4 linked regions of the Homo sapiens genome follow. The protein of the gene in region 2 purifies or fractionates together with the protein of the main gene of each other region. This does not show direct contact. Each region holds a gene or a part of one and is shown on either strand. Other genes may lie near its edges.

Region 1 (7,509 bases), on a different chromosome or scaffold from region 2:
TCTTTGTAAGAAAAAATTCTCTTACTATTTCTTTCCTAATGAGATATTAAATTGATAAATTTCTGAATCTATGATTTCAGGTTTCCTTATTAATATTTAATAATATTTCTTTCCTGATGAGACATTAAATTAATAAATTTCAGAATCTATGATGTAGGAAATTTAGAGGAAAGGGAATTTGGAAGAGCTGGAAAATAGAAATTCCTTTTTCCCTGTGAACACATTTCTATCTCACCTCCACCTGAAACTCATTTCTCTCTTTAAGAGGGAAAAGCAGAGATAAAACCAAGCAATAAAATACTAGGGAACTATTTGTTCACCTGTAGTCATCGGTTAAATGGAAACTTTAAAATAAGAAATTCTAAAATATATGTTGCCTTATTTCCTTCTATTTTGAGGTCTAATTGGTAAGACAGTGGAAGCAGAGCTGTGTAATTATCTGTAACTCACCTTCATCAAAACACCAATAACTGCCAAACCATCAGCCTTTGAGGCAGCTTCAGCAAGGCTGGAGTACTTTGCAGAATTCCAGTGAGCTACGTGAAGCTAAAAATGATACTATGGTTAATTAATTATTTATACCAGTGTGATGAAAAAAGATAAGTTATAAGTTAACTTGTTACCATATGATGATGTATCTTGGCTTAGATACATAAAACTTATGTGAACCTTTATCCAGTGGATTAGAAGAGTTACATTCTCACTCGTAGGAAGGGTTATCTGTGTGCCAGGTAGAGATTACAAAACCTGGAACCAGTAAGCAAAATGTCCTTTCCTACGATATTGTTATTTAATATTACTCCTTTAAATGTATCTCTCTTTGTTTTGAAAAGATCAGGAAATATGACTAACTAGTTTTTGGGAAAATAATTGAAGTAATTTTCTCTCACATGAGGTACTTTATAGTAAATTTATGAGAAAGGGTTCCTGGAGTTCCTGGGAGTCTTGGCCAAGAACAGATTCTTTCAGGCACGTTCGTGCCCTTTCCAAACATCTCTCAAATAAATATCTCCAGCTTAACGTCTCTGCAAACTCTAGATTTGTACATCCAAGTATGTATATATGTATTCTTGATATATTCTTGATATCTCTACATGGATGTCTAATAGATGTTTCAGACTTAATCTGGCCAAAATAGAACTCTAGATTTCCTTCTTGCCAAACCTGCTTAATTTTACCTTCTTAGGATAAGGTTTTTAAATGCTCAATCAATAAGTACAACAACTATCATTCATTTCTTGCTTTCCCCACCTATCAACATTCACATCTTACAGGTTATACTTCGTCACATGTTCACAACTTTGAGCCTTTGCATTAGCTTCTAATTTTCTCTGGAATTTCCTTCCCCATGATCTTCAAATGGCAGACTTTTGTCTTGAATTAGGGTTGAACTCAAATGCCACTCCTTAAATAATTCTTTCCTGATCATCCAATATAAAGTAACCACCACAAATCAAAACAGTTCTATCCATATCACTTATTTAATCTCTCTTCTTCCTATTCTCCTCCCTCCCTTCCTCCCTCCCTCCCTTCCTTCCTCCCTCCCTTCCTTCCTTCCTCCCTCCCTTCTTTCCTGCCTTCCTTCCTCTGAAATTTTTATTTTCCCTATCAAATGCAAGTTCTGATAGCAAGTACTTTTTAAAAACAGTATCTCACGCCTGTAATTCCAGCACTTTGGGAGGCCGAGGCGGGCGGATCACGAGGTCAGGAGTTCGAGATCAGCCTGACCAACGTGGTAAAACTCCATCTCTACTAAAAATACAAAATTAGCCGGGTGTGGTGGCACATGCCTGTAATCCCAGCTACTCAGGAGGCCGGGGCAGGAGAATCACTTGAACCTGAGAGGAGGAGGTTGCAGTAAGCCGAGATCGTGCCTCTGGACTCCAGCCTGGGCAACAGAGCAAGACTCTTTCTCAAAAATAAATAAATAAATAACGACAAAAAATAAAGACAGTATCTGGCATATTGTAGGTGTCCAGTGAATATTTGTTGAATGAAAAAAGAATGATTAAGACAGTATATTAAGAGGGATCACTTATTGCAATTTCCTCTGACCATGCCAGTGTAGATTCTGTCCCTACTTGTAATTAATTATTCTTACATCTGTATTCCTATGCTTCTTTGTGAATAGTCATACTGCCATTTGCTACTATATTTATTTAATCACAATAATTTATGCCTATACTTCCCTGCTTGAAAAATGTTTGCTTGTGTCTCTACGGAAATGTTAAGTAACATTATTCAGCACATGCAACATGAAAGGTGCTGGTCTAAGTGTGCTCTGTATGGGTTAACTCTTTTCATGCTGTCAACAATTATTAAGATAGATACTAATGCTATATTATCTAGATTCTCTATATAGGAATACTGGAGCGTAGAGTGATTTGTTTGAATTTGTACAGCTAGTAAGTGGTCGAGCTTTGATTCAAACCCTGGCAGTCAGCTGGGTACTTGCATTCTTAAGCAACAGGCTGCATTGCCTCTCAAACCTATTGTCTTATAGGTATCTCAAGAAGGTTTATTGAACTGAATTTAATCATATGCTAAACTTTGTGGCTAAGTGTCTCTCAATATCTAGCATGGATTATATTGATTTTTCTCAATTTAGATGAGAGAGTCACTAATTTAGTTTTCTTGGATACTACCAACTATCCTTCCAAAAAGATAATACTAATTTAGGCTCTTAGTCCATTTAATTTTAATCTACCTTCAATTTTATGGAGGGGAAAACCCAATTAACAGATTTCTGCAGCATTGAAAGGTGTTAGTCATGCTTTACAACACAAGGTAAAGCAAGTTTTATTTGTATACAATCTGCTGATGTTCTATCAGAATAGAAGATACATATACTTTGTAACGTAGCAGTCTGCCCTGGAAAAATCTATCGTACATAATTACTTTCACTAGTGCACAAGATATATGTACAGATATATTCACTGAAGCATTTTTTAATAAAAGCAAAAGAAACCAATATAACAAAAATCATATGTTGTGATTGTTCATCAATAGAAGGCAGTTAAATAAATTCTGATGCATTCACCCAAATGAAATACTATGCTGACAGTAAAAAAGGTGGAATTCAATCTTCTGATTTTTAAAAATTGTCATGATAAGTGGGTAAATAGAAAAAAAGCAGGTTGCAAAATTATATATATTATAGAATTCATTTGATGAAAGTAAAATTAAAAAGTCAACCTGCATATATGGGTACACATGTATTATATAATTCATACACCTAAAATAAAGAGCAAAATTTCTCACATTTTAATCTCCCAGACCCTCTGCTGAGAGTTTGGTGTACATGTCTCCATTTTTCTTTGGATATACAGATAATAATGTCCTGAAATAAGTCACAAACTTCCATGTGAGAGCAGGTTAAGAGCCAGGGAAGGTTAGACCCTCATCTAGGTGTATGCTGTTCTGTGACCATTGCTGTGGTTAAATTCGAGCTCTTAGTAGAGTCTCATTGAATTGTCCTGGCTTGGCCACAACGATACTGCTGGTGTATCCAAACTTGAACGTTTAAATAAAGAGGAAATGATGGTGTGTTCCATTTGGGGTTACAGCTTTAAAGGAGGAGCAGTGTCATCCTTTGAAGCTAGCTTTGATATCAAGGTAACAGCTTTTGAGGCATTCTCAGGGAAAGGTGAATCTTGGGCTCAGGAGTTTAGCTGCCTCTTTCCACATGAAAATTTTCTCTCTCTTGCCAAACATTATGTGTCTGTGCTTGATTTTAATGGAAACTGGGAGTTCCTTACTGGAATACCCATTCCTTTGGAGTCATTATGATGTTGTCTTAGAAAAGAAGGGAGAAGCTGCTTCTGGGAGTACTCTCAGGGTAATTATCTCTCACTTACTAAATTACATTACCTCGGCAGAATATTTGACTCCATCCACTGTATGTTCTGAACCATGCTCATTTGTACTGCCCCAGTGAAAATGGAACTGAAAGAGCCTGTAGCTGTCAGAGAAAGGACCACCTTTCAGCACTGGAAGAAAAGGGAACCGATTGTTAGCCTGATGCTCCACAAACTCTAGCTTATCTTTGCATTTAATATAAACCAACACTAAATTGTATTGAGTAGAAGTGAAAACAAACATTAGTGCCTAAACTTTCATCTTGTTTTCCCCCACATCCATGAGGATGACAGTCATATGTATGGTGCACCCCTGACTGTGGCATTGATGAGCTATTCCATGAATTATACACATTTCCCAGCCACACGAGCTACAATTTTACCTATTTCTAACTCCTAGAAAGCATATTGCAATGTGAGTGAATTATATCATTACAGGGCTGTCCTTGAATCTCCTTTAATTTGCAAGTTTATTCCTTCATTCTTTCAACAAAGACAGTATGCATCAAAAATCTTTAGTAGTTTATTTTGAGTAATGAACCATTCATCACCTACTGTGTAACTGATGAAGACACAAAAGTATATCTTGACAGCTTTGTTGAGAATCCCTGGCCAGGGACCAAGAGAGAGTACCAGTGGGGCAGTGGGGCACTTATAAAACTTTGTTTGGAGAGCCTATCCAATGATAATATTAGTTAAATGCATATAATACCAGACCTAATCTAATATTAATAATGGACATAGTCCCAAGGTGCCTAAAATTTAGGCCTCAGAAACTCATAAACAAATTTAGCATTTTAAATCAGTAGAACTGTTTTATGGAATTGTCATTTAATAAAATATTCAATAAACCTTCATGAAAAGCTAACTCTGTAGCAAAATTTGTTCTAGATTCTGGAGTATAAGGATAATTCAGTCACTGCTTTGTTTTTCTTTTCTACTGTGCTCATTCATACTCATCCCAATTAGAAAATATTTTTCTTTTTAGTTGTTATATTTGTAATGACTGGTTCACTAGACCTTTCTGGATAAATGCTGTTTATTCAGAGACAGTGAAGTGAGCATACAGATACTGGAATGACGAGAAGAGACGTGATGGTGACTTTGAGAAGCAAGACTGAAAATAGAGAGCTGGGAGTTCCAAAAATTGTCTTTACCACCTGGGCGTTTTCCAGAAGTCCAAGATGCCTCACTAGATTACAGCAATGCTGCACACAAGCACAAAAGACTTAGAATGGGTGTCATATTTCTCGAGCACTATTTTTTAAATTTTCCCAGTAGACTGTAAGAAAAAAATATCAGAAGGGTCTTTCAGCTCACCTGATCGGTTATCGTTGTCCTCAAAATTTACATGGAAGGAATGCCCCACATTGATAATTTCTTTGGCTGTGGCTGGGTTGTAGGAGACACTAATAGGTTTCAGAGAGGTGTCATGTTTGGTTTCACTGGTTTTAATATCAACAGGGGACTGGTTATTTCCATTGGCAATGGGATACAGCTTGCTCCATTGTTCAGGACCTACCAGGACAAACACGTGTAAAATCAATGTCTTATCAAATGCTTGATTCCAAGTTTTAGGAGTATAGTTACCTGTTTGCTTATTAGATTAGGGTTTATTTCAGTGTATTAAATGATATTCTCTTAAGATTAATAGAAATTCTGTGTTTGAAGATGTCCCTTTTCTTTCTTTCTTTCCTTCTTTTTCTTTCTTTCTTTCTTTCTTTCTTTCTTTCTTTCTTTCTTTCTTTCTTTCCTTCTTTCTCTCTCTCTCTTTCTTTCTCTCTCTTTTTTTTTTTTTTTTTGACAGAGTCTTGCTCTGTCACCCAGGCTGGAGTGCAGTGATGCGCTCTTGGCTCACTGCAACCTCTGCCTCCCAAGCTCAAGCGATTCTCATGCGTGAGCTTCCCAAGTAGCTGGGATTACAGGAGCATGCCACCATGCCTGGCCAATTTTTTTGTATTTTTAGTAGAGATGGGGTTTCATCATGTTGTCCAGGCTTGTCTCGAACTCCTGACTTCAAGTGATCCACCTGCCTTGGTCTCCCAAAGTGCTGGGATTACAAGCATGAGCCACTGCACCCGGCCCCTTTTCTATATTGTACTATAAAATAGTGTATTTGTCAATACTACTAATATAGATCTATACTCATAGTCTATAGAATCAGACCATACATATTTTATTATTAGCAATAGATTTCTAATACAAGCTTAACTCATTTTATTGCGCTTCACTTTATTGTTCTTTGCAGATATTGCATTTTTTACAAACTGAAGATTTGTAGCAACCTTGCATCAAGCAAGCTTATTAGGGGCATATTTTCAACAGCATGTGTTTATTTCACGTCTCTGTGTCACATTTTGGTAATTCTCACAATATTTTAAACTTTTTAATTGTTCATATATCTATCATGGAGATCTTTGATGTTACTATTATAATAGTGTTGTGGCACCATAAACCATGTCCAAGTAAGATGATGAACTTAATCTGTAAATGTTGTGTGTGTTTTAACTACTTTACTGACTGGCTATTCCCCATCTATCTCCCTCTCTGTAAGTCTGCCTATTCCCTGAGACAAGAATATTGAAATTAATCTGTTTAATAACCCTACAATGACCTGTAAGTACTCCAGTGAGAGGAAGAGTCACATGTTTCTCACTTTAAATCAAAAGCTAGAAATGATTAAGCTCAGTGAAGAAGGCATGTCAAGAGTTGAGACAGGCCAAAAACTAGACCTCTTGTGCCAGTTAGTCAAGCCGTGAATGCAAAAGAAAAGTTCTTGGAGAAAATTAAAGGTGCTACACCAGTGCACACACAAATGATAAGAAAGCAAAGCAGCATTATTGCTGATATGGAGAAAGTTTGCATAGTCTGGATAGAAGATCAAAAACCAACAACCACATTCCCTTAAGCCGAATCCTAATGAGAGCAAGGCTATAGCTCTTTTTAATTCTGTGAAGCCTGAGAAAGGCAAAGAAGCTGCAGAAGAAAAGTTAGAAGCTAGTCGAGGTTGGTTTATGAGATTTAAAGAAAGATGCCATCTCCATAACATGAAAGTGTGAGGTGATGTGGCAAGTGCTGATACAGAAGCCGCAGACAGTTATACAGAAGATCTAGCTAAGATAACCAATGAAGGTGACTACACTAAACAACAGATTTTCAGAGCAGACAAAACAGCCTTCTTTTGGAAGGAGATAGCATCTAGGACTTTCATAGCTAGAGAGGAGAAGTCAATGCATGGTTTCAAAGTTTTAAAAACAGCCTGACTCTTTTGTTAGGGTCAAATGCAACTGTTGACTTTAAGTTGAAGCCAACACTCATTTAACATTCTGAAAATCCTAGGACCCTTAAGAATTATACTCAATCTACTCTGCCTGTGCTCTGTAAAAGGAACAACAAAGCCTGAATGACAGCACATCTATTTACAGCCTGGTTTACTGACTATTTTCAAGCCCACTGTTGAGCTCTACTCCTCAGTAAAAGAAGATTCCTTTCAAAATATCACTGCTCATTGACAGTGCACCTGGTCACCCAGGAGCTCTGATGGAGATGTACAAGGAGATTGATGTTATGCTTATGCCTGCTAACACAGCATCTATTCTGCAGTCTATGGATCAAGGAGTAATTTCAACTTTCAAATCTTATTTAAGAATAC
Region 2 (8,162 bases):
AAATTTTGTGACTTTTTTTTTTTTTGAGACAGAGTCTCACTCTGTCACCAAGGCTACAGTGTAGTAACACGATCTTGGCTCACTGCAACCTCTGCCTCCCGGGTTCAAGTGAGTCTCATGCCTCAGTCTCCCAAGTATCTGAGATTACAGGCATGCCTCATGATGCCTGGCTAATTTTTTTTTTTTTTTAGTAGAGACAGGGTTTCACCATCTTGGCCAGGCTGGTCTCGAACCCCTGACCTCAACTGATCTACATTCCTCGGCCTCCCAAAGTGCTGGGATTACAGGAGTGAGCCATCACACCTGGCCATGTTACACATATTTTACACACACACACACATATACATACACGTACATACACATACATATTTTTTTGCTCCGTCGCCCCGGCTGGGATGCAGTGGCATGATCTCGGCTCACTGCAACCTCCGCCTCCCAGGTTCAAGCAATTCTCCTGTCTCAGTCTTCCGAGTAGCTGGGACTACAGGCGCCTGCCACCATGCCTGGCTAATTTTTGTATTTTTAGTAGAGACAGGGTTTCACGTTGTTGCTCAGGCCGGTCTCGAACTCCTGACCTCGTGATCCACCCGCCTTGGCCTCCTAAAGTGCTGGGATTACAGGTGTGAGCCACTGTGCCCGGCCCACCAATATTTTTTAAGTGAAAAAGGGAAACTCAGTAAGTTACTGAATAAATGAGCAATGAACACAAAGGTCAGTTCAAGCATCACATTTGCTTCTAGTCACAGGAACTAGCTTGGCTAATGCTTATTTTTTTAACAATCTTTCTAGTCCTTACCCCTCATTGGAGAAAAAGAAAACACTCATCAGTGTCAAAACACGTGGAGTCGGAAGAGGGTGGCTGGGGAGGGGAGGGCAGAAAACAACTTGCTGTGAAAGGTATACAAACTTGACAGCCAGGAACACAACAGCAGACAGCCTGACAGGAGAAGAGAAGGAAAAAGATGAAAGCAGAACCCTAGAAGTACTGATAAGGGAACTATTGAGAGTAGAGTTGAAGACTGCTGTCTCCGCAGGCAAAGCTGTTTAACAGCAGTGACTTCCTGGTGACATTATCATAAATGGTACAGTCATGAAGGATGCTGTTTAGGAAGATAGAAGTCAGTGTACATTTTGGAAAATTCCTATCAGGTAAAATAGTTTAGCTTTAGAACCTAAAAAGATCAAGTTCTCTCATGCAACAAACTCACTCATGAAAACCTTCATTCTCTGATGATAATACATAAATAGGCTGTCACTATTACACAGAATTTCTGGAATTTTTTTGGATTAAATAATAAAATTAAATAATTTCAATTTTTAATATCTGCACATAATTACAGTAACATAATCAAAATTTATAAACTTATTTTAGTCTGAGAACTTTTTAATTAAAATGCACAAATAGACCGGATGCTGTGGCTCACGCCTGTAATCCCAGCACTTTGGGAGGCTGAGGTGGGAGGATCACTTGAAGCCAGGAGTTCAAGACCAGCCTGGGCAACACAGTGAGACCCCCGTCTCTACACAATTTTTTTTTTAAATCAGCCGATCATGGTGGCACACGCCTGTGGTCCCTGCTACCTAGGAGGCTGGAGGATTGCTTGAGCCGCAGTGTGAGGCTGCAGTGAGCCGTGATTGCGGCTGCTGCACTCCAGCCTGGGCAACAGAGCAAGACCCTGTCTCAAAAAATAATAATAATTTAAAAAGCACGAATATTCTAGCAATACTTCATTAGTATACCTACAGATTATAATAGATTTTTAAAAACCAATAATCCAACCTTTGCTGTCAAGGAAGATATATCCATCAAAACGATCTCTAAAAAGAAGGATGTCATCAGGATTCCTAAAATTAATGTATGCTCTTGAGTAGAGATGAGGATAAAGACTGAAATAAGAGATAACAGTGAAAATGGTCAGTGAAAAATACAATAGTCCATTAATTTAGCCTCTTTTTCCTTTTCTGGGCACAACAAACTACTTTAGATAAAACTTTTGTGCCAAATCATCTCAGTTAATTGTAACAACTTGGATATTCTTTAGCAAAAACAAACGCAAAACGTTAACTTTACAAGGCAGAACTCAGGTCCCTTCTCCACTGCCCAGAACCGGTCCTCCGAGGCTGAAACCCTAAGGCAAGGCCAGGGCGCACTCCCAGAGGAACCCGTGGCGCCGAGAGACTCTCCTGACTTGGGGACCTTCTCCGGTATTTAAAACCGCACTGGCTGCGGCACCAGCGTGGAGGCCACAGGAAGAGCCGGCGCCCCCCGGCCCCGCAGCGCCCCGTCCGCGGACGAGCAGGGAAGCCCGGGAGGCGCCGGGCGGGCAACGCTGGTCCTTTCAAAGGCACCCGCTTTCCTAAGCGTTAGCCGTCTGAAAATCATCCGCATTTTTCATGTAAACCACATCTGTGTTTCTTTGTTGGTGGTATTTTTCTTTGACGGAACGGACACGTTTTACTGAAATGTATTTATTCAAAAAGCTCACACGACTCCCATATAGGAGAAATCAGGGTAAGGAACGTAAGGCAACGAGACGGCCACCGCCGCCGAGCTCTGGGTTCCGCCCTCTCTTCCTCCCCTCGGGGCGGGCCTCACCTCAGGTCGGCGGCGAAGAACTCGAAGTAGTCGTGTGCTGGCAGCGGGCGCAGCTGCTCCTCCAGCTGCTCCTTGGTGAGGCCCGGAGGCAGGCGGCGGATGACCACCTGCGGGGAGCGCGCGGCCGTTCCCACCGGGGCGGAGCGTGGACAAGGAGCTCAAAAGGCACCGCGTACCGCGCTGGGAGGCCCGGCCCCCGCCCCTCCCTCCCCTCCCTCCCCTCCCTCCACTCAGGGCCGTCCTCTCCTCGCGAGGTTTGCGCGCCCCGCCCCCGTCCCCACCTTGCTCAGGGCCGTCCTCTTCTCCTCGCGAGGTTTGCCCGCACCGCCCCCGCAACCGGAGGACGAAGTTGGCGGCGTCTCAGCCTCCTGCTGCTGCGAGTCGCGGTGGAACTGCACTTCTAGGGCCGACAGCTTCTCCCTCCCGCTCGGGCCCCGCGCGGCAACGGCCGCCCGAAGGCCTCCGGCCCCCTCCTTTTCCGAGCGCATGCCGCACTCTCCGCCGAGCCGCAGCCGCCAGCCCCCGACGAAACCTCGCGAGAGCTCGGCCGCCCCAGCCCCGCCCCTCCTCGAGCCGCGGCGGTCGGGGCCGCCCACGAAGGGGTCAGGCGCTGCGGGACTAGTCGGGGTCGGGGTGGTGACCTCCGGCCACACAGCCTGGCTTTCCGCCGGGTCAGGCGGCCCCTCAGGGAGCGGCGGCCGCGGTTTAGGGCGGCCCCGGAAGCGGGGCGCCGGCGGCTTTGGTCCGGGCGTGGTGGGAGGAGTTCGCGGACAAGCCGCCCTCCCATCCCAGCACCGTTTTTATCCCACTCCCCCAGGCTCTCCGTGGCCGGGGCGCCATGAAAGCCGGGTTCACATTTGAATTCTTAATTTTTTTGGAGACAGTCTCGCTCTGTCGCCCAGACCGGAGTGCAGTGGCGCGATCTCGGCTCACTGCAGCCTCTGCCTCAGCCTCCTGAGTGGCTGGGACCTACAGGCACGCGCCACCACCCCTGGCTAATTTTTTTGTTTTTTTAAAGTAGAGACGGGGTTTCACCTTGTTGGCCAGGATGGTCTCGGTAACTCCTGACCTCAAGTGATCCGCCCACCTCGGCCTCCCAAAGTGCTGGGATTACAGGCATGAGCCACCGCTCCGGGCCCTTGCACATATTTTTTTATGAACACACAGGCAGCAGCACTTTGATTACAGTAACTTACATGGAAGTTATTTTAAAATGGCTTTCCCCTTCTCTTTTTCATGTAGGCTGCATTTTTCATCTGCAGCACGCTTTCTCTCAAGAATCTCAAGCACACACAAGAAACCAGAGAGTAAAATCACTGAGGCGTGAACACATCCAGAGACCAAGGGCGTCACTGGCAGAAAAGCTTTTAGGCGGATCCACGGCCCGAGAGCCACCCTGCCCAGAGACGCGGTTTCCTAGGAGCAGTTCACACGCGGCTCTGCAGCACCCACAAGCGGGGCCAGGGGCTGGTTTTCATAGTTCACAGTCTGCAGGGATCTTAACAAAAACATGGCCGTGGTAAAAGTGCCTAGACCAGGCTTTCGTCACAACTCAGTGAGTAGGAAGACTAGTTAGGCTGATGAAAAGCTCTGATGATGTGTGATTAAAAGTAGGAAAACGTGGTTGCCAAATAAAATATTTTACTATATAGTCAGGGGGAGAGATGGGGATAAAAAAATGTGGAAACCATTTATTTTAAAATTTTGACTGTTCCTGCAGTGTTTAAAATATAGGAGATATATTCTGATTATCTTTAGAAAGAAACTGCTCTCAATCTATTTGTATGTCTTCCCTCTGGTTTTAAAATATTAAACAATCATCTAACTCAATATTTAATTTTACCTCTAGTCATGTTACTAGGTTAGGATAATAAAAAGGACTGTGAACTTCACATCTGCCATCTATAATAGATTCTTATTGTAGCAATCTTGCACCAAGGGGATTTCTTTATTAACTCTGCCAAATTTTCCAAAATTACCAAATGGAGAAAAGAGCTGGTCCCATCTGTCACCAGGCACAACCAGGTCAGTAACTTAGGGTATTTCTTGTGTTCATGTTTTGCCCTCACCACTGCAAAGCCCTGTTCTCGGCCTGGTGCCTCTGCACACCTCTGAAGCCAGGTTGGCCTCAGCCAATGTGAGGGACCCTTCATTTGACCTTCCCCAGAACCTTGAGTATTTCCACTTCTCCCTTCACTGCACTGTACCCTAAAGGGACTCACATGTTTGCTGGATGTGTATATTTCGTAAACCTAGCCAGCAAAATGTCCAAATGTTTTTCCCCCCAAGTCAATTTTTTAACACCCTTCTGATTCTTTACTTCCTGTTATTGCAAAGTTCTGAAAAATGATTTTGAAAAAAAGGTAGGATTTTAGAATTCAGCTGTTTGATGAAATTATCTTTAAATAAAACCATATGAATTTTAAGATACAGTGAATGAAATACACTTGTAAAATAGCTTATGATTTTACATGACAAATTATATCACAAAGAAAAGCTAGCTTCCTACACATTAGCCAGCCTGTTGAAATGCTCTGTTTGATACATGTACAGAACTTTACAGCCAAAGCAAAGCAGGAAGAAATATCTCCAAATCCTTCTTCATGTGGGCTTTTAGTATGTAACTTTACTTTTGCTTAACTGAACACTTCCATCTGTGAATGTGGCCCTGGGCTACATTTTACTTGGTAGCCCCTATCTCATTGGTAGATGACAGTGACTTGAAGCTGGTGACCGTAACACTTCCCAGTATTTCCTTTAACGATAACACAGCCACTGTAGTTAGCAAACAGGACACCTTTTTAGGATAAACTGTGTCCTGAGATACTGAAGAATTGGGTAGTAACAGGAACAATACTTGGCAGTACGACACATTGTTTTTACTCTCAGAGGCCTAAACACTGGTGTTAACACTGCTGCTGATCCGAATTACAGCTTACTCAAGTGTCTGAACCTTTTGACATTCACTTACAGAAACCAGAAAAATTCTAACAGTGATCAATGAGAAAACTAAATGGTTTTTTTTTTTTTTTTGCTCTGGCAGGAAAAATAAATGTAAAAAACTCAGCACTTTATTAATATAATACTTTCATTTTAGTTGTTTTAAAAATAATTACCTTAAGTTCAGTCACTTGATTTTTTAGCCCCAACTCAAGACAGGGGAGGCATACATGATGCCTGACAGAGAGACAGAAAAGCCATTTAAAAATGAAAACATGAAAACGCATTAGTTTGAGTCTAATTTAGCGTGGGGTAACTCATGGTCTCTAAATGTATTACTGCATTAACTTCCAGCGCGATACCTGACTTTCACCATGATGAATGGAGACAGGATGGGGTCTGAATGCTAGTCTTCAATGCACCATACAACAGTGCTAGACCCTCATCAGTATGAAGGGGAACAAAGCCCTCCTTAAAAGATTTACTAGAGTTAACACCTGGGGATCCTCAAGAAATGAATGCTATCATTGTTCTGCTTCAGAAGGTAGAAATACAGGGAATACACTTCAGATAGGTTAAGATAAAAAGTTTTGTGTTTAAGGCAGCACCTCAGTTGCCTGGAAAATTCACTTCTGTATAATGCCTAATTTGTTAATGATGCCGTGAATAGATGCTTTCTAATAACTACACAAGTTTGTTTTTATGAAAAAGTAGAGTAACATGTCCTCTGATGTTAGTAGTAGGAGAGTTTGAATAAAGGACTTTAAACAAATGAAGCATATAATCCTCTCTCTTTATTAGAATGATGAAGAGTGGGGGTGTTGTCTGTTTATACAGTTATCACCTAGGAGTCATATCAAGATTCTTTTCCTAATCTCAGTGAAGAGGTTAAAAAAAAGTTTAAAGATTAGAGATTTAGTAGAATTGTCTTGTAGCACCTTTTTAAAATAAAATTTTTAAACGTATCTTTTCAGACCGGGCGCTGTGGCTCAAGCCTGTAATCCCAGCACTTTCAGAAGCTGAAGCAGGTGCATCATTTGACGTCAGGAGTTTGAGATCAGCCTGGCCAACATGGTGAAACCCCGTCTCTACTAAAAATACAAAAATTAGCTGGGTGTGGTGGCAGGAGCCTGTAATCCCAGCTACTCAGTAGGCTGAGACAGGAGGATTGCTTGAGTCCGAGAGGCAGAGGTTGCAGTGAGCCGATATCACGCCACTGCACTCCAGCCAGGGCAACACAGTGAGCCTCCGTCTCAAAAAACAAACAAATTTTAACATATCTTTTCACAAAATCAATCACCAGCCAAATGTGTAAAACTATGTAAGAACTTTTCCTTCTTGACCCCAACAAATGGGGCATTTCCATCTGTTCCGCTATGGCTGATTTCAGATGCTCCTACAAAACAGGGAATCCAGCTGTGACATATTTTAAATATCATTACTGATAGACACCTGCTTATTTCACATAGATTCAGTTTTCAATCTTATGTGAGAAAACTGCAAAAGATGTTAAAATAATGGAATAAAAAACAGGCCAAGAGAGCCTATAACATTTGCCAACAGTTAAAAGGATACGTCACCAAATTAGTATGTGAGAAAATAGGTAAAATTCAATTTCTTTATCTTATACATACCAGGAGGTAGCAATTACAAAGAATAGTGAATCACATTTATTTTATAGAACACAATTATAACTTAGCACCAATAGCTGTTCAATTCTTTGAGCTTTTTAAAGCATCATAAAATGTGTTAATAGCTGAGTTTGTTACCTTAAATACTATGACTTTCAAAAGTTAAACTGAAATTTGATAAGTACTGCAATTTATTTTATATGACTATTATTTAGCTATAGTTGTGTTTTTTGTTTTTTTTTTTTTTTGAGATGGAGTCTCGCTCTGTCACCCAGGCTGGAGTGCAGTGGCGCAATCTCAGCTCACTGCAGGCTCCGCCTCCCAGGTTCACACCATTCTCCTGTCTCAGCCTCCTGAGTAGCTGGGACTACAGGCACCCACCACTACACCCGGCTAATTTTTTGTATTTTTAGTAGAGACGGGGTTTCACCGTGTTAGCCAGGAGGGTCTCAATCTCCTGACCTCGTGATCCGCCCGCCTCAGCCTCCCATAGTGCTAGGATTACAGGCGTGAGCCACTGCGCCCAGCCTATAGTTTTTTTTTAATATGACTAATATTTAGTTATAGTTTTAAGACAGCAGTGACGTCACAGAAAACGGCAGGGCAGGAAGCTTCAGGGATTAATTGGTTCTTCCACCAAAACCACCATTAAGCTGGACAACAAATTAGCAGAATCAACTGTTTTCTAACTCTGTCACCTCATCAGATGCTTACTGCAACCCGGGGAAGGCTTGATGATGCAGAGGCTGCAGCTTTTTGGTTAAGAGGGTGGTGTGGATGGACAGCCAACCTACCTGCTGCAGCCTGTCCTCAGCGAGGACCCTGTGCATTTTGGTCACATGATGGTGCCCTGAGGGACCAGCGTCGATGCGTGCCTTTGTCTCGACCCCCTCAGGCTGCAGCAATTTCCCCAATACCATCTATCAGAAAATTTAGAGACATACACTTCTTTTAAAAAAAAAGATCTAGATATCGGGCCAGGCGCAGTTATGCAC
Region 3 (7,005 bases), on a different chromosome or scaffold from region 2:
TCCACTGGATTCAGTGAGCTAGTGGGTGCTCCTTGGAGAGAGCCAGAACTGTCTAATGGGGGCATCAAAGTATCAGCCATAAAAAACCATAAAAAAGACTGTCTGCTGTAGGAGATCCGTTCAGAGAGAGAGAGAGACCAGAAATAATCTTGCTTATGCTTTCCCTCAGCCAGTGTTTACCATTGCAGAATGTACATGCGACTGAAAGGGTGAGGAAACCTGGGAAATGTCAGTTCCTCAAATACAGAGAACACTGAGGGAAGGATGAGAAATAAATGTGAAAGCAGACATGAATGGTAATTGACAGAAGGAAACTAGGATGTGTCCAGTAAATGAATAATTACAGTGTGCAGTGATTATTGCAATGATTAATGTATTGATAAGATAATATGAAAACACAGAATTCAAACAGCAGTGAACTGAGATTAGAATTGTGGAGAGCACTGGCATTTAAGAATGTCACACTTAGAATGTGTCTCTAGGCATTGTTCTGTGCATATATCATCTCAATATTCATTATCTGAAAATTATGAATTAGGTACAAAGCTCAAATAATTTATTTTTTCAGGTTAGCAAGAACTTTTTTTTTTTTTTTCTGAGATAGAGCATTGCTATGGTTGCCCAGGCTGGAGTGCAATGGCATGATCCAGGCTCACTGCAACATCTGCCTCCCAGGTTCAAGCGATTCTCCTGCCTCAGCCTCCCAAGTAGCTGGCACTACAGGCATGTGCCACCACCATGCCTGGCTAATTTTCTATTTTTAGTAGATAGGGGGTTTCACCATGTTGGTCAGGCTGATCTCGAACTCCTAACATCAGGTGATCCACCCTCCTCGGCCTCTGAAAGTGCTGGGATCACAGGCGTGAGCCACCACACCCAGCCAAGAATGTGAATTTTGTAGAAGGATATAACCCATATTTCTCTGACCCTAGAGTCCTTAGTATACCTCCCATACCATGTGGCTCATCCTCCTTACATACATTTCCCATCTTTCACCCTACCTTTTCCTTTTTGTTTCAGCTTTTCACTGTGTCAAAATCTAGAACCTTATCTCCTACCTGCTCTGAAACCAACAGCAAGTTGACTTCCATTCTAACCCACATTGGCATTACACTAATTAAAATCGATACTGAGTTCTAAAATCATCGGGGATTTTGGGGACTATGTCTTACTTCATACTTCCTTGAGATTTCACATTAAATGTTGGTGTTCATTAAAGGTCCTTCATTTAACTTTGTATTCATCACACTCTTGGATTCACAGTTATATCTAAACTCTTAAATACAGCCTGTATAATCCCAATTCCCAACTCTGATTTCTAACCTCTGACCTCCAACCTCAGTGCCAAACCCATATATCAAACAATGTACTGGGCTTATTTATATAGATGTCCTATAGGCACCTCAGACTCAGCATGGGTATTTCACTTGTTATACTAAAACTGTTTCTCTTCCAGTGTTTTCCATTTTAGTCATTAGATAGCTACTTGCCCATTCACCAAGGTCACAGATTAAAATCATTTCCCTACCTCTAATCAACAGTTCGATTCTGCTTCAATTTGTCCCTATCTATTAATCACCACTCTTACTGCCCAGTCAGGTCCTCATTGTTTCCTGAACAAGAGTAGATGCTATTCTTTCCACTTTTAGACCTTATCCTGGCTGGATGCGGTGGCTCAGGCTTGTAAACCCAGCACTTTGGGAGGCCAAGGCAGGCAGATCACTTGAGGTCAGGAGTTCAAGACCAGCCTGACCAACATGGTGAAACCCCATCTCTACTAAAAATACAAAATCAGCCGGGCGTGTGGTGCATGCCTGCAGTCCCAGCTATTCAGGTGGCTGAGGCAGGAGAATTGCTTGAACCCAGGAGGCAGAGGTTGCGGTGAGCCTAGATTGCACCATTGCACTCTAGCTTGGGCAATAGGGATGAAACTCCATCTCAGAAGAGAAAAGAAAAAAAGACCTTATTCTGTTATACAAATCCTCTCAATGCAATCCATATAGAATAAACATGTAACCAGATCTCCCAATGTGTAAAATCATTTCAGGTAGAACAGAATTAAAGTGAAAAGCCAAGTCTTTGGAATTAACAGACAAAGATCAAATAACAGTCCTCATGGCCTTAAGAATTTACCTAACATTTTTTTTAGAATCAATTTTCTTATATATGAATTGGAAACATAATTCCTCCCTCACAAACACATTCTAAGATTTTAAGGAGATATTGATGAAGTACATCATCTGTCATTTTTAACAGGTAGTGGTAGTGATTCACACAGCACATTATGATCTGTTCTTGTATGTTCTGTTCCATTCTGTATTCTTGACCTGGTTGTATTCTTTCTGAGCTCCAGATCCACATATCTAAGTACATCTTTTTGCATTTTACAAGAGTGCATACAATACAATGTATCCAAGACTGTATTTCTGATTTTATCGTACCACTAAACTCACAAATGTGGCCCTATTCTTGTGTTCACGACTGACATCACCGTCATGGTCCAAGTCTGATAATAGAAATGGCATTGTCACTTTCTTCCCTACTGCAACAGAAGCCCAGCTATTTGTCTCCCATTTTCTCTACTTCTAAAATACATTTCTTCACTAAGTGAGAATAATCTTTTAAAGACACAAATCAAACCATGCCACCACCTTTCTTGAATTATTCAATATCTTTCGTTGGCTTCCAGGTTACAGAAAAATAACTTGTAACAAAGTTTAAAGGTCATTCATGGCTCCTCTCTACCCTATTTTATAACATTTCCCCTTGTGATCAGAATCTCAGGCACATCATCCATCTTTCTATATACAAATAAAGTCATATAGTTTGAACTCACCTCTGGTTACTTTTAATCAACCAAATGCTGTAAAATGCATTTGTATCGCTACGTGTTAAGCAGTAGTTGATTCTTTTCATTTCTGTGTAATATTCTATTCTTTGACTATACCGTAATTTATCAATTCTACTGTTGGTAAGCATTTAAGTGGCTACCGGTTTGAGGTTTTTATGATTATTGCTGTCATAAGCATTTCTATACATGTCTTTGGATACACACATGCATGTGTTTCTGAATATCTAAAAATGTAATTGCTAGGTAATAGACTTATCAAGCATCCAGCATTTGTGGATACTATTAAAGGTTTTCCAAAGGGGTTATACTATTGTACAGTGTCACCAACAGAGTTTGAGTTTCTATTGATCCATATCACCACCAAAATTTGAACTGTCAGTCTTATCTCTTCTCTTGTCTCTTTTTTCCTCTTTTTTTTCCTTCCCTTCCCCTCTCTTCGTTTCTTTTCTCTCCTCTTCTCTTCTTTCCTCTCTTCCCTTCCCTTTCTCTTTCTCTTCCCTATCCCTTCTCCTCTCCTCTCCCCTCCTTTTTTCTCCTCTCCTCTCCATTATTTATTTTTCCTTCTTCTCCTCCATCCCTTCCATCCTCTCTCTTCCCCTCTTCCTTCCTTCCTTTCTCCATTTCTTCCTCCTCTTTCCTTCAATCCTTCCTTTTGGATATGCTCATGGGTGTGTATTTGTCTGCCATTGTGGCATTATTTGAATTCAGAAAAGAGTGAAAAACTACTGGGATCTTCATTCCTGGGTCTAATTCCACATTTTTTTTTAAGAACACATCTGTAAAAATGTTCTGTACTAGCATATTCCCAGGAACTTCGTTAAATTTAATCTGGCTGAATATGGTAAATCTACTTTTCACTTTGCATTCTTTCTTTAGTCATACCATAATTTTAAACATTCAAAATATTTGTATATAATATTTGATTTTATCTGTCATTAAAATGTTAACCTTAAAATTCATGTTTCCAGAACCTATTTCAATAACTGGTAAATAAACACTATTCATTTTTTAAATATTCTTTTAATGGATATTTATTTCAATATAATAAAAAATTAGAGTTTTATTATAGGAAGAATTTACCAAAAGAAGGAGGAAGCAAGCAAGTTTAAACTGCAGCAATAGATTTGTCCATTCCAACCTCTCAAAATTCCCTTGGAGACAAAAATCTCTAGAGGCAAAGAAGAACTTTATATTGAGTCAACTTGTTAAAACATCTGCTTTTAGATAAGTTTTCTTAGTATAAAGTGACAGAAACAAATAAGTTAAACTCTAAGATACATTCCACTATATTAGCCTAAAACACTTCTGCAAAAATGAAACTAGGAGGATATTTTTAGAAACAACTGCTGAAAGAGATGCGGTGGGGAGATATGTAGAGGAGAACAGGGTTTCTGAGTCAAGACACACATGACAGAACAGCCAATCTCAGGGCAAGTTAAGGGAATAGTGGAATGAAGGTTCATTTTTCATTCTCACAAACTAATGAAACCCTGCTTATCTTAAACCAACCTGCTCACTGGAGCAGGGAGGACAGGACCAGCATAAAAGGCAGGGCAGAGTCGACTGTTGCTTACACTTTCTTCTGACATAACAGTGTTCACTAGCAACCTCAAACAGACACCATGGTGCATCTGACTCCTGAGGAGAAGACTGCTGTCAATGCCCTGTGGGGCAAAGTGAACGTGGATGCAGTTGGTGGTGAGGCCCTGGGCAGGTTGGTATCAAGGTTATAAGAGAGGCTCAAGGAGGCAAATGGAAACTGGGCATGTGTAGACAGAGAAGACTCTTGGGTTTCTGATAGGCACTGACTCTCTGTCCCTTGGGCTGTTTTCCTACCCTCAGATTACTGGTGGTCTACCCTTGGACCCAGAGGTTCTTTGAGTCCTTTGGGGATCTGTCCTCTCCTGATGCTGTTATGGGCAACCCTAAGGTGAAGGCTCATGGCAAGAAGGTGCTAGGTGCCTTTAGTGATGGCCTGGCTCACCTGGACAACCTCAAGGGCACTTTTTCTCAGCTGAGTGAGCTGCACTGTGACAAGCTGCACGTGGATCCTGAGAACTTCAGGGTGAGTCCAGGAGATGCTTCACTTTTCTCTTTTTACTTTCTAATCTTACATTTTGGTTCTTTTACCTACCTGCTCTTCTCCCACATTTTTGTCATTTTACTATATTTTATCATTTAATGCTTCTAAAATTTTGTTAATTTTTTATTTAAATATTCTGCATTTTTTCCTTCCTCACAATCTTGCTATTTTAAATTATTTAATATCCTGTCTTTCTCTCCCAACCCCCTCCCTTCATTTTTCCTTCTCTAACAACAACTCAAATTATGCATACCAGCTCTCACCTGCTAATTCTGCACTTAGAATAATCCTTTTGTCTCTCCACATGGGTATGGGAGAGGCTCCAACTCAAAGATGAGAGGCATAGAATACTGTTTTAGAGGCTATAAATCATTTTACAATAAGGAATAATTGGAATTTTATAAATTCTGTAGTAAATGGAATGGAAAGGAAAGTGAATATTTGATTATGAAAGACTAGGCAGTTACACTGGAGGTGGGGCAGAAGTCGTTGCTAGGAGACAGCCCATCATCACACTGATTAATCAATTAATTTGTATCTATTAATCTGTTTATAGTAATTAATTTGTATATGCTATATACACATACAAAATTAAAACTAATTTGGAATTAATTTGTATATAGTATTATACAGCATATATAGCATATATGTACATATATAGACTACATGCTAGTTAAGTACATAGAGGATGTGTGTGTATAGATATATGTTATATGTATGCATTCATATATGTACTTATTTATGCTGATGGGAATAACCTGGGGATCAGTTTTGTCTAAGATTTGGGCAGAAAAAAATGGGTGTTGGCTCAGTTTCTCAGAAGCCAGTCTTTATTTCTCTGTTAACCATATGCATGTATCTGCCTACCTCTTCTCCGCAGCTCTTGGGCAATGTGCTGGTGTGTGTGCTGGCCCGCAACTTTGGCAAGGAATTCACCCCACAAATGCAGGCTGCCTATCAGAAGGTGGTGGCTGGTGTGGCTAATGCCCTGGCTCACAAGTACCATTGAGATCCTGGACTGTTTCCTGATAACCATAAGAAGACCCTATTTCCCTAGATTCTATTTTCTGAACTTGGGAACACAATGCCTACTTCAAGGGTATGGCTTCTGCCTAATAAAGAATGTTCAGCTCAACTTCCTGATTAATTTCACTTATTTCATTTTTTTGTCCAGGTGTGTAAGAAGGTTCCTGAGGCTCTACAGATAGGGAGCACTTGTTTATTTTACAAAGAGTACATGGGAAAAGAGAAAAGCAAGGGAACCGTACAAGGCATTAATGGGTGACACTTCTACCTCCAAAGAGCAGAAATTATCAAGAACTCTTGATACAAAGATAATACTGGCACTGCAGAGGTTCTAGGGAAGACCTCAACCCTAAGACATAGCCTCAAGGGTAATGCTACGATTAAACTCCAACAATTACTGAGAAAATAATGTGCTCAATTAAAGGCATAATGATTACTCAAGACAATGTTATGTTGTCTTTCTTCCTCCTTCCTTTGCCTGCACATTGTAGCCCATAATACTATACCCCATCAAGTGTTCCTGCTCCAAGAAATAGCTTCCTCCTCTTACTTGCCCCAGAACATCTCTGTAAAGAATTTCCTCTTATCTTCCCATATTTCAGTCAAGATTCATTGCTCACGTATTACTTGTGACCTCTCTTGACCCCAGCCACAATAAACTTCTCTATACTACCCAAAAAATCTTTCCAAACCCTCCCCCACACCATTTTTTATATTTTTATATTTTTCTTATTTATTTCATGCACACACACACACTCCGTGCTTTATAAGCAATTCTGCCTATTCTCTACCTTCTTACATGCCTACTGTGCCTCATATTAAATTCATCAATGGGCAGAAAGAAAATATTTATTCAAGAAAACAGTGAATGAATGAACGAATGAGTAAATGAGTAAATGAAGGAATGATTATTCCTTGCTTTAGAACTTCTGGAATTAGAGGACAATATTAATAATACCATCGCACAGTGTTTCTTTGTTGTTAATGCTACAACATACAAAGAGGAAGCATGCAGTAAACAACCGAACAGTTATTTCCTTTCTGA
Region 4 (7,509 bases), on a different chromosome or scaffold from region 2:
TTTTAAATTAAATGTAACTATCGCTTTCTTAACCATTGTCTTGCAGGCCATTTAAACTATTAATCCTAATAAATATGTTATCTCACTCCACAGTTGTCAGCAATGGATTTTTTTTTTTTTTTTAATATTTTCCTGGCCGGGTGCGGTGGCTCATGCCTGTAATCTCAGCACTTTGGGAGGCAGAGGCAGGAGGATCAGCTGAGGTCAGGAGTTCGAGACGAGCCTGACCACATGGAGAAGCCCCGTCTCTACTAAGATTACAAAAAAATTAGCCAGACGTGTTGGTGCATGCCTGTAATCCCAGCTACTCGGGAGGCTGAGGCAGGAGAATCACTTGAACCTGGGAGGCGGAGGTTGCGGTGAGCTGAGATCACGCCATTGCATTCCAGCCCGGGCAACAAGAGTGAAACTCTGTCTCAAAAAAAAAAAAAAAAATTGTCCTAGTAAGTAAAAAATTGCTCCACATAACTAAGAAAGTTGAACCTGTATCTATGTCTACCTATAAACTGTGTTTATCTTTTATTATGAACTGTGCATTGACATCAACTTATCAACTGAGGATCTGAATTCTTCTTCCAAACTATATACGAGATATTTTATCTGACCTTAATCTATCTCCTTCAAATTTTAAGAAATGCTTTCTATTTCTAGTGACAGAGTTTATGAAAAAGTCCATGTTTGCTCCATCTAAACTTTCCTAGGTTATCTTAATGGGTATGTTTGAAATGCAGAGTTATTGAATGATTGTCAGTTTCATAAAAAATTTTGTCTTAATTATCATGTTATCACCATTATGTCAATTTTTAAAATTGTAAAGACATTACCTTTTCCTCATTTGTTGCAGAAGAATCTGGATCTTTTCTTTTCTTCTTCAATTTTTTATCTTTACTTTGTTTTGTGCTAGAAGTCGGATAAGGTTGCAAATCTACTCGAGAATGAAACTGATAACGACCACTTTCCACATCACAATAGTAATAAATTCCAGTGGAAGGATCATAATAGAGTTGATTTTCCTTTGAAAGTCAAGAAAAAAATAAATTCTATTCATGTAAGATAAAATAAACTTAACGAAAATGCCAAATACATTCAAATGTGGTAAATATTTCTTTGAACAACTATAGTATTTTCAGAAGACAATGAATTAAAGATAACAATAAAAAATGCTTTAATCTTCCAAAATACTTTACCATTCAATAACTGATCTAATTTTCCTAGTGTGAGAAACAAGTAAATCTAAATATTAAATTTAATCATATAAAATTGTCAATACTTGACCACTTTTAACTTATAAGAAACAGCAATTTCATATGGTTCCACTTAATACATTAAAAAAATTGATAATACTTTTAAAGGCATGAAAACTAAAGCAAGCATAAGAAAAAGCTGACCATATGAGCGCAATTCTAGACTCCTGATTCTTAATGACTGCACAATAATGGTGTGGCAGTATAAACCCCTAAACCCTCCTCTCAATGTCATAAAACAAAGATTTGTCTTTTGATGTTCATAACTTAAAATTAGAGAAGAAAATTTTGAAAATAAAGTTCATGCATACCAAAAAATAACATTCTATAAAATGCAATCAATAAACTGTCTCCACTAATTAATCAGTTCTATAGTAAATAAGACTTACAAGCAACCATGCATAAATGAATTTGGCAAATTACAGATTTAAAAACCAGAAAGATAAAATTAGGTAATCACCTATATTTATGATATACTGGCCAGTACTCTAAAACCAAATTTAATTGAACAGTCTATATTTTATTTACATCCTAAATCCATGCAGACCAGACCCGGAAACATCTTTAATGTACTGAGATTGAGCAACTAAAACTTCCTGAAAAAGAATAATTTATTTTTCTAACTATTGACACTTGCAATTTATTGTCTTTAATCCATGCATTTTGCAGATCTCTTACAAAAAATATTTAGATTTCTCACCATCTTTCTCTTAACTAAGAAACTGAGTGGAGGCTTTCCAATCTTTATTTCTAGTAATAATGGAACTTTTATAATTCAAACCTTTTAAATCTGTTTATCAGTCCAAAATATAGACATTTTCAAAATATAAAAAAAATTTATTAAAATATTAGCACAATGAAAATGGCAACACAATGAAGTTCCTAATTTACTCAGAAATATAACCTGCAGAACGTACTAACCATTTACAAAACAACTGATGTCAAGAGAAAAGATACAGAAAGACAGGCAGAAGATTGACAAAGACTAATGTCTACTTGAAACTATTGTTTTCCTAGAAACTAAATAACTACTCCCTTTGGATAAGTGTTTAAACATTAATTTCCTGGTTATTAATTAGCATTGTCAATTAGCAACCCCCATGAAAGAAAACCCTCTCTTTACAAAGGACTTACAGTTTACCATATGCAGATTGACAAACTAATGACACCTCTTATGTTAATTGAGATATTTAGTATTATCTTATGTTCTCTAGATAACAATAGTTCCAGTAACAGGAATGATGAACGTCAACTCCACTTTTGTGTACCACATTCTATAATTCCTCAGAAAACCAGATTACATTACTAGATTCTTGAGTTTGAGGTATGTGACTGAGTTCTATCATTGTCATCAAATCTTCAACGAAATATAATTATTAGACTTCAACAGCTATAACACTGTATTATAAATCAAGAACTTTATTTTCTGGTTCTATCCTAGTCAGTGGTCCATTATATTTTAGATCCCATATTAATTCCCTAGTTCTCATTGCTAACAGATTGATTTTTGTTTGCTTGTTTTTTGAGACAGGGTCTCACTCTGTCACCTAGTCTGGAGGGCAGTGGTGCAATCATGGCTCACTGCAGCCTCCATCTTCCCAGCTCAAGCGACGCTCCCACATCAGCCTCCTGAGTAGCTGGGACTAGAGGGTGAGCCACTACATCCAGCTGACTTTTAAAATTTTTTATAGAAAGAGTCTCACTGTGTTGCCCAGGCTGGTCTTGCACTCGACTCAAGCAATCCACCTGCCTCAGCCTCCTAAAGTGCTAGGATTACAAGGAGTGAGCCACCATGCCTAGCCAACAGACTGAATGTTTAAAGTGAAATAGTTAAAAGGCACAGGATATAAAACACTGGCTAATAATAAACATACTACTAAGAATTCAAGAAAGAAGTCTCCTTATGTGGCCTAAAATGAATTCATAAAGTATTTGATATAATTTTTAAAATTCTCATTCCAAGCCTAAAATTAACCTCACTTCTCTATTAATTCTATGAAAAAAATACTGGTTTAGGTTCTAAAATATTTACGATGTAGTTAACTATCTGCTTTTATTAACAAAAGCTCCAGTATTTTTGTCTGTTATTTTTATACATAAAGACTTCTCCAAAACATTGTCTATAATAATCACAATAAAATTTATTTTAACCTTAACCTTATTTTAAAAACTTAGAAGTGTAGCATCATAAGCTATTTTAGAATTCTTCTGTCAAATAGTTTTGAGTCAAATATAATTTTAAATGCAGCTTTTTGCTTTCTTACTTCGGCTTAGGGTTTAATATTTGATATCAGGCACTGAGTATGTATCATACAGTATTAAAAGGTCTGAGATGTAATTCGAGACCAGCCTGGCCGACATGGCGAAACCCTGCCTCTACTAAAAATACAAAAAATTAGCAGGGTGTGGTGGTGCATGCCTGTAATCCCAGCTACTTGGGATGCTGAGACATAAGAATCACTTGAACCTGGGGGGTGAAAGTTGCAGTGAGCTGAGATCACTCCACTGCACTCCAGCCGGGGTGACAGAGGGAGACTGTCTCAAAAACAAAACAAAACAAAAAGGTCTGAGATACTTACAGAATCATAATAGAAACCAGTGCTGTGGTCAAAATACAGTCCAGTATTTTCATCATAACTAAATCCAGTCTGTGATACAGCCGCTTCTGCTGCAGCTCTCAAACTTTCAGCTAATGATGAGCCTTCTAAGGAGGTATCTTCTGTTGCTAATGCAGATGCTGGCTCCTATAAAAGATATAGTCATGCCAAATAAGACAAAAGCTTCTGTATATCAATTAAAAAGTTGGCTGAACTCAAGACCTGAGACTATGTTTAAGTAACGACTTCAATTTCTACAAAGGAAAAGCATGACTATCAATTATGACTTGAACCACTTATTACAACATTTACTAGTGTGTCAGTAACTTCAACTTTGACCCAGTTTTGAAGGCACTAAAAATGAGTGACAATTATTCGAGAATAAATGTATGATGCCACAGGGAAGCCATCCACAAAATACAGACCCTGAAATATTGGCTAAGACAAAGATCTAGGTTCTTCAATGATTATATGTTCAATTGGAAAAAAAATTTCAAAAAGACAAATGAAGGAGAAAACTGTAGATTAAATGAGATATATCAAACACAATAGGGATCCTAATTCAAACAAACTATAAAAACAAATTTATAGATTCAGGGAAATTTGAATAGTGGCAGGGTATCTGACATAAAGGAACATTAAAATTTTTTTAGGTGTAAATGTGGTATTGTTGTCCACAGTTCTTTTGTTCAGTCAAAATATCTGGACAAATTTTGTTTTAGTTTATGTAGATCACAAAATTTTGGAACACAATGTAGTAGGAAAACCACTACATATATGAAGAAGTTCTAATTCTGGTTTTGGAAAAACTACAACATTCTTTGCATAATTACACATAAGAATGTTTATAACCCTTATATATGCTGTGACGGACCAAAGAAGTCTATCTTTCCACATAATAACAACAAAGAAGGACAGGTTCTTGGGCATCAACAGTTTCATGTTTAGCATTTTATTACCTGTGAATTTGAGGCAAAATGGTCCACTTGTCTATATTTAACATTTTCTGTTCTATCGGTACCAGGGTAAGCATCATTTTCTACTTGTAAATGGTCTTTAGAATTCAAAATAGAAGTTTCGATAGCTTGATCTTGTTGATCTGACAGTTCAGTCACTTTATTTGGAAGACTAACGTCATTGTAGTACGTCTGATAAAAATAATCTGTAGCAAAAAAATGAAGTGAAATCGTATCATATTAGAATAATGTATATAAAAAGGACTTAACTACAAAACACTGGCATTTAAACACAAAAAGCACATACTTCAAATAAATCATGATTTTTACAACTGTACAAATTTTAAAAGATTAAAACAGATGGCACAGATAAATCTGCAGAAGTGTGTATCTTTGATTCTAATGTCTCCTTCAAGACCCTAGCTGTCAGTTAAAAAGAAAAAAAAAAGGTAAGTTGGTTACATTTTCTACAGCAAGAGTAAAATAAAAATCTGTAGATAGGTTGTGTTCTATTTAAAAAACTTAACTCTTAACTTCTAACTGGATACCTTAATACTGTTGCTTATCAACTGATAATGAAATAAAGGCAAGGAATTAGGGATTGATTTATTTTTTGGCAAATTTCTCTCCCCATGCAGACTTTTTAAAACGTATCATGCAGATAAGAAAAGTTAGCACTATTGCTATGTTTAGCAATTTAGCCAAAAATTATGTCCTGACTGAAGCAAGGCAAAACTTAATAGGAAAGATGATTTCTTCTTGTGACACATATATATTAAAACTCAGTATCTCAGCTATTTTGCCTTATAACATAATGCCATTCATAAGGCCATGGTGGTGGGCTCACCATTCCCACAAGGGTGAGAGACTGATACTATACATAATTCTAATTAGAACACATCAACAAGAAAACAAATGCCCCTGGTCACAAGGAAGGCAGATATGGAAGTAGATGGCTAACTGCCTGCCAAAAATTACTCAGTGAGTGTGCCACTGAAAACATTAGCAACATTATAGAAATCACAGGAATGACAATACATTTCTACTTTTTCCTCCAGAAGAACAAATTGATTATCCGAAAATACCATTATCATATGGAGAGACGTCAACAGTATTAACAATTCTCATTTACCTTGATCTTTGTTTATTTTAAATTAAAAGAAAACGCAACATTAGCATGATTTGAATGTAACAGTGTTAGCATATCCTCACTATAAGCTAAATACCTGAGATTGACCAAGGAGCATGGTTCTCTGTTTGTACTTCTACATCAGACTTTTTATTATCTTCATTTCTCCCACGTTGGAGTATTTTACTGAGTTCTTCCACCTGAGAGAAAACAAGGCTTTAGGAAAAAGAAATCATGTAACAATCTAATAATATATATACCAGTCTCCTACCGTTACAAATAATTGTTTTAGAGAAATGTCAAGAGCAGCAAGTTTCCCTTTCAGAAAAGCTAAAATTATTATTTTACTTTATACATTTAAAAGGCATTTTTATTCCTAATCTCTCTTACTAAATGTCCAAATATCTCCTCCAAAAATCGAACTAAATAATGAGACTTTGTGAACAAGGTCCTTTATTTCTAACAAATAAGAATGCTTTTATGTTAACATTTTAAAGTCAGTTCTAAAGAATTCAAAAATTCAAAATTTACAAATTCTCATCCCTACTGGATTATCTAATACTCATTTGGTATTCTCCACTGGGAATTAACTATCCACCTGAATATGTTAATGCCACTTACAAGCTTTAATACATTTTTTCATTAAACAGTAGTCCTATAATTAAGTAACTGTAGCAGAAGAGAACAGGGAAGGTGACGGCCTGAGAGGGGCATCTGTCCTCCATGTACTTCACACACTAAAATACCCTTAAAAGGATGCTACTACATAGGACAGAGAGAAACAAGTGTGTGGAAGTGCCCAAAAGCAAGTAACATGCTGCCTCGGTCAATACGCTGCCTCAGTCAATACACCTCAGCCTGAGAGGACCTCAATGTGAGACAATGTCTACTACACACAAGAAACCAACTAAAAAACAAGCTTTTAAATATTTATTTAATGATACATAAAGCTTAAACAGAGAAAGGTGATAAAACTGATCTGTTGCTAATACTAGGGCAGGAACTACAGTGAGGGAAGCAAGACACTGATCGTGAAAAATCTGAGGCGCTCCTCTGATTCATGCAAGTACAGAGTTCATCGCTGGGAATTAGTGCCCCATTAAATTCCTCGCCCTAGGAGCCTGATTGCCTTGCCCTAAATCCTGGCTCTGGCTACTGTCCCTATCACTATGAATTAGATTACTTAGTATCTACTACATGCTGGGCACTATACTTGATGCTTTAGATAACATCTCATTAATTCACAAAACCACCTGAAATATTCGTTGTCCTAACCCCAATTTTACACATAAAATATCAGACAAGACAAAGTAATTTGCACAAGGCTATTTTGGGGTCTTGTACAAACCCTATACATATTATGGTTCTCCAGTTATCATTCTCAAGCAAAACTTTTTAACTGCTCCAAATAAAACACATTCAGTAATTTGGAATGACAGTTAATCGAATCCACCCTCTCCCCAACCAAGGGAGGCTGACTAGGAGAGTAAGGAGTTATCACTATTCAAAGTAGAGTCAAGACTTTCTATGAGATTAAATTTTTAATATTGGACTAAAATGGAGGCATGTGGAGGACAGATGAT

What was found.
Region 1: the proteins of UPF3A (region 2) and CA1 purify together in Homo sapiens (affinity purification with mass spectrometry; 2 studies listed by BioGRID and IntAct, with this or other methods). This does not show direct contact.
Region 3: the proteins of UPF3A (region 2) and HBD purify together in Homo sapiens (affinity purification with mass spectrometry; 2 studies listed by BioGRID and IntAct, with this or other methods). This does not show direct contact.
Region 4: the proteins of UPF3A (region 2) and AGGF1 purify together in Homo sapiens (affinity purification with mass spectrometry; 2 studies listed by BioGRID and IntAct, with this or other methods). This does not show direct contact.

The regions. Positions count from the first base shown.
Region 1 is NC_000008.11:85,333,075-85,340,583, forward strand, and holds part of CA1 (carbonic anhydrase 1), read right to left. Parts: intron 5,376-7,509; coding exon 5,178-5,375; intron 3,990-5,177; coding exon 3,871-3,989; intron 547-3,870; coding exon 451-546; intron 1-450. UniProt on the Homo sapiens protein: Catalyzes the reversible hydration of carbon dioxide. Can hydrate cyanamide to urea.
Region 2 is NC_000013.11:114,276,562-114,284,723, reverse strand, and holds the start of UPF3A (regulator of nonsense transcripts 3A), read right to left. Parts: upstream 3,124-8,162; 5' UTR 3,085-3,123; coding exon 2,878-3,084; intron 2,814-2,877; exon of another isoform or gene 2,704-2,813; coding exon 2,597-2,703; intron 2,330-2,596; exon of another isoform or gene 2,072-2,329; intron 1,888-2,071; coding exon 1,781-1,887; intron 631-1,780; exon of another isoform or gene 366-630; intron 1-365. UniProt on the Homo sapiens protein: Involved in nonsense-mediated decay (NMD) of mRNAs containing premature stop codons by associating with the nuclear exon junction complex (EJC) and serving as link between the EJC core and NMD machinery.
Region 3 is NC_000011.10:5,231,902-5,238,906, reverse strand, and holds HBD (hemoglobin subunit delta), read left to right. Parts: upstream 1-4,423; 5' UTR 4,424-4,473; coding exon 4,474-4,565; intron 4,566-4,693; coding exon 4,694-4,916; intron 4,917-5,814; coding exon 5,815-5,943; 3' UTR 5,944-6,069; downstream 6,070-7,005. UniProt on the Homo sapiens protein: Involved in oxygen transport from the lung to the various peripheral tissues.
Region 4 is NC_000005.10:77,033,035-77,040,543, reverse strand, and holds part of AGGF1 (angiogenic factor with G patch and FHA domains 1), read right to left. Parts: intron 6,127-7,509; coding exon 6,024-6,126; intron 5,004-6,023; coding exon 4,801-5,003; intron 3,989-4,800; coding exon 3,824-3,988; intron 1,014-3,823; coding exon 825-1,013; intron 1-824. UniProt on the Homo sapiens protein: Promotes angiogenesis and the proliferation of endothelial cells. Able to bind to endothelial cells and promote cell proliferation, suggesting that it may act in an autocrine fashion.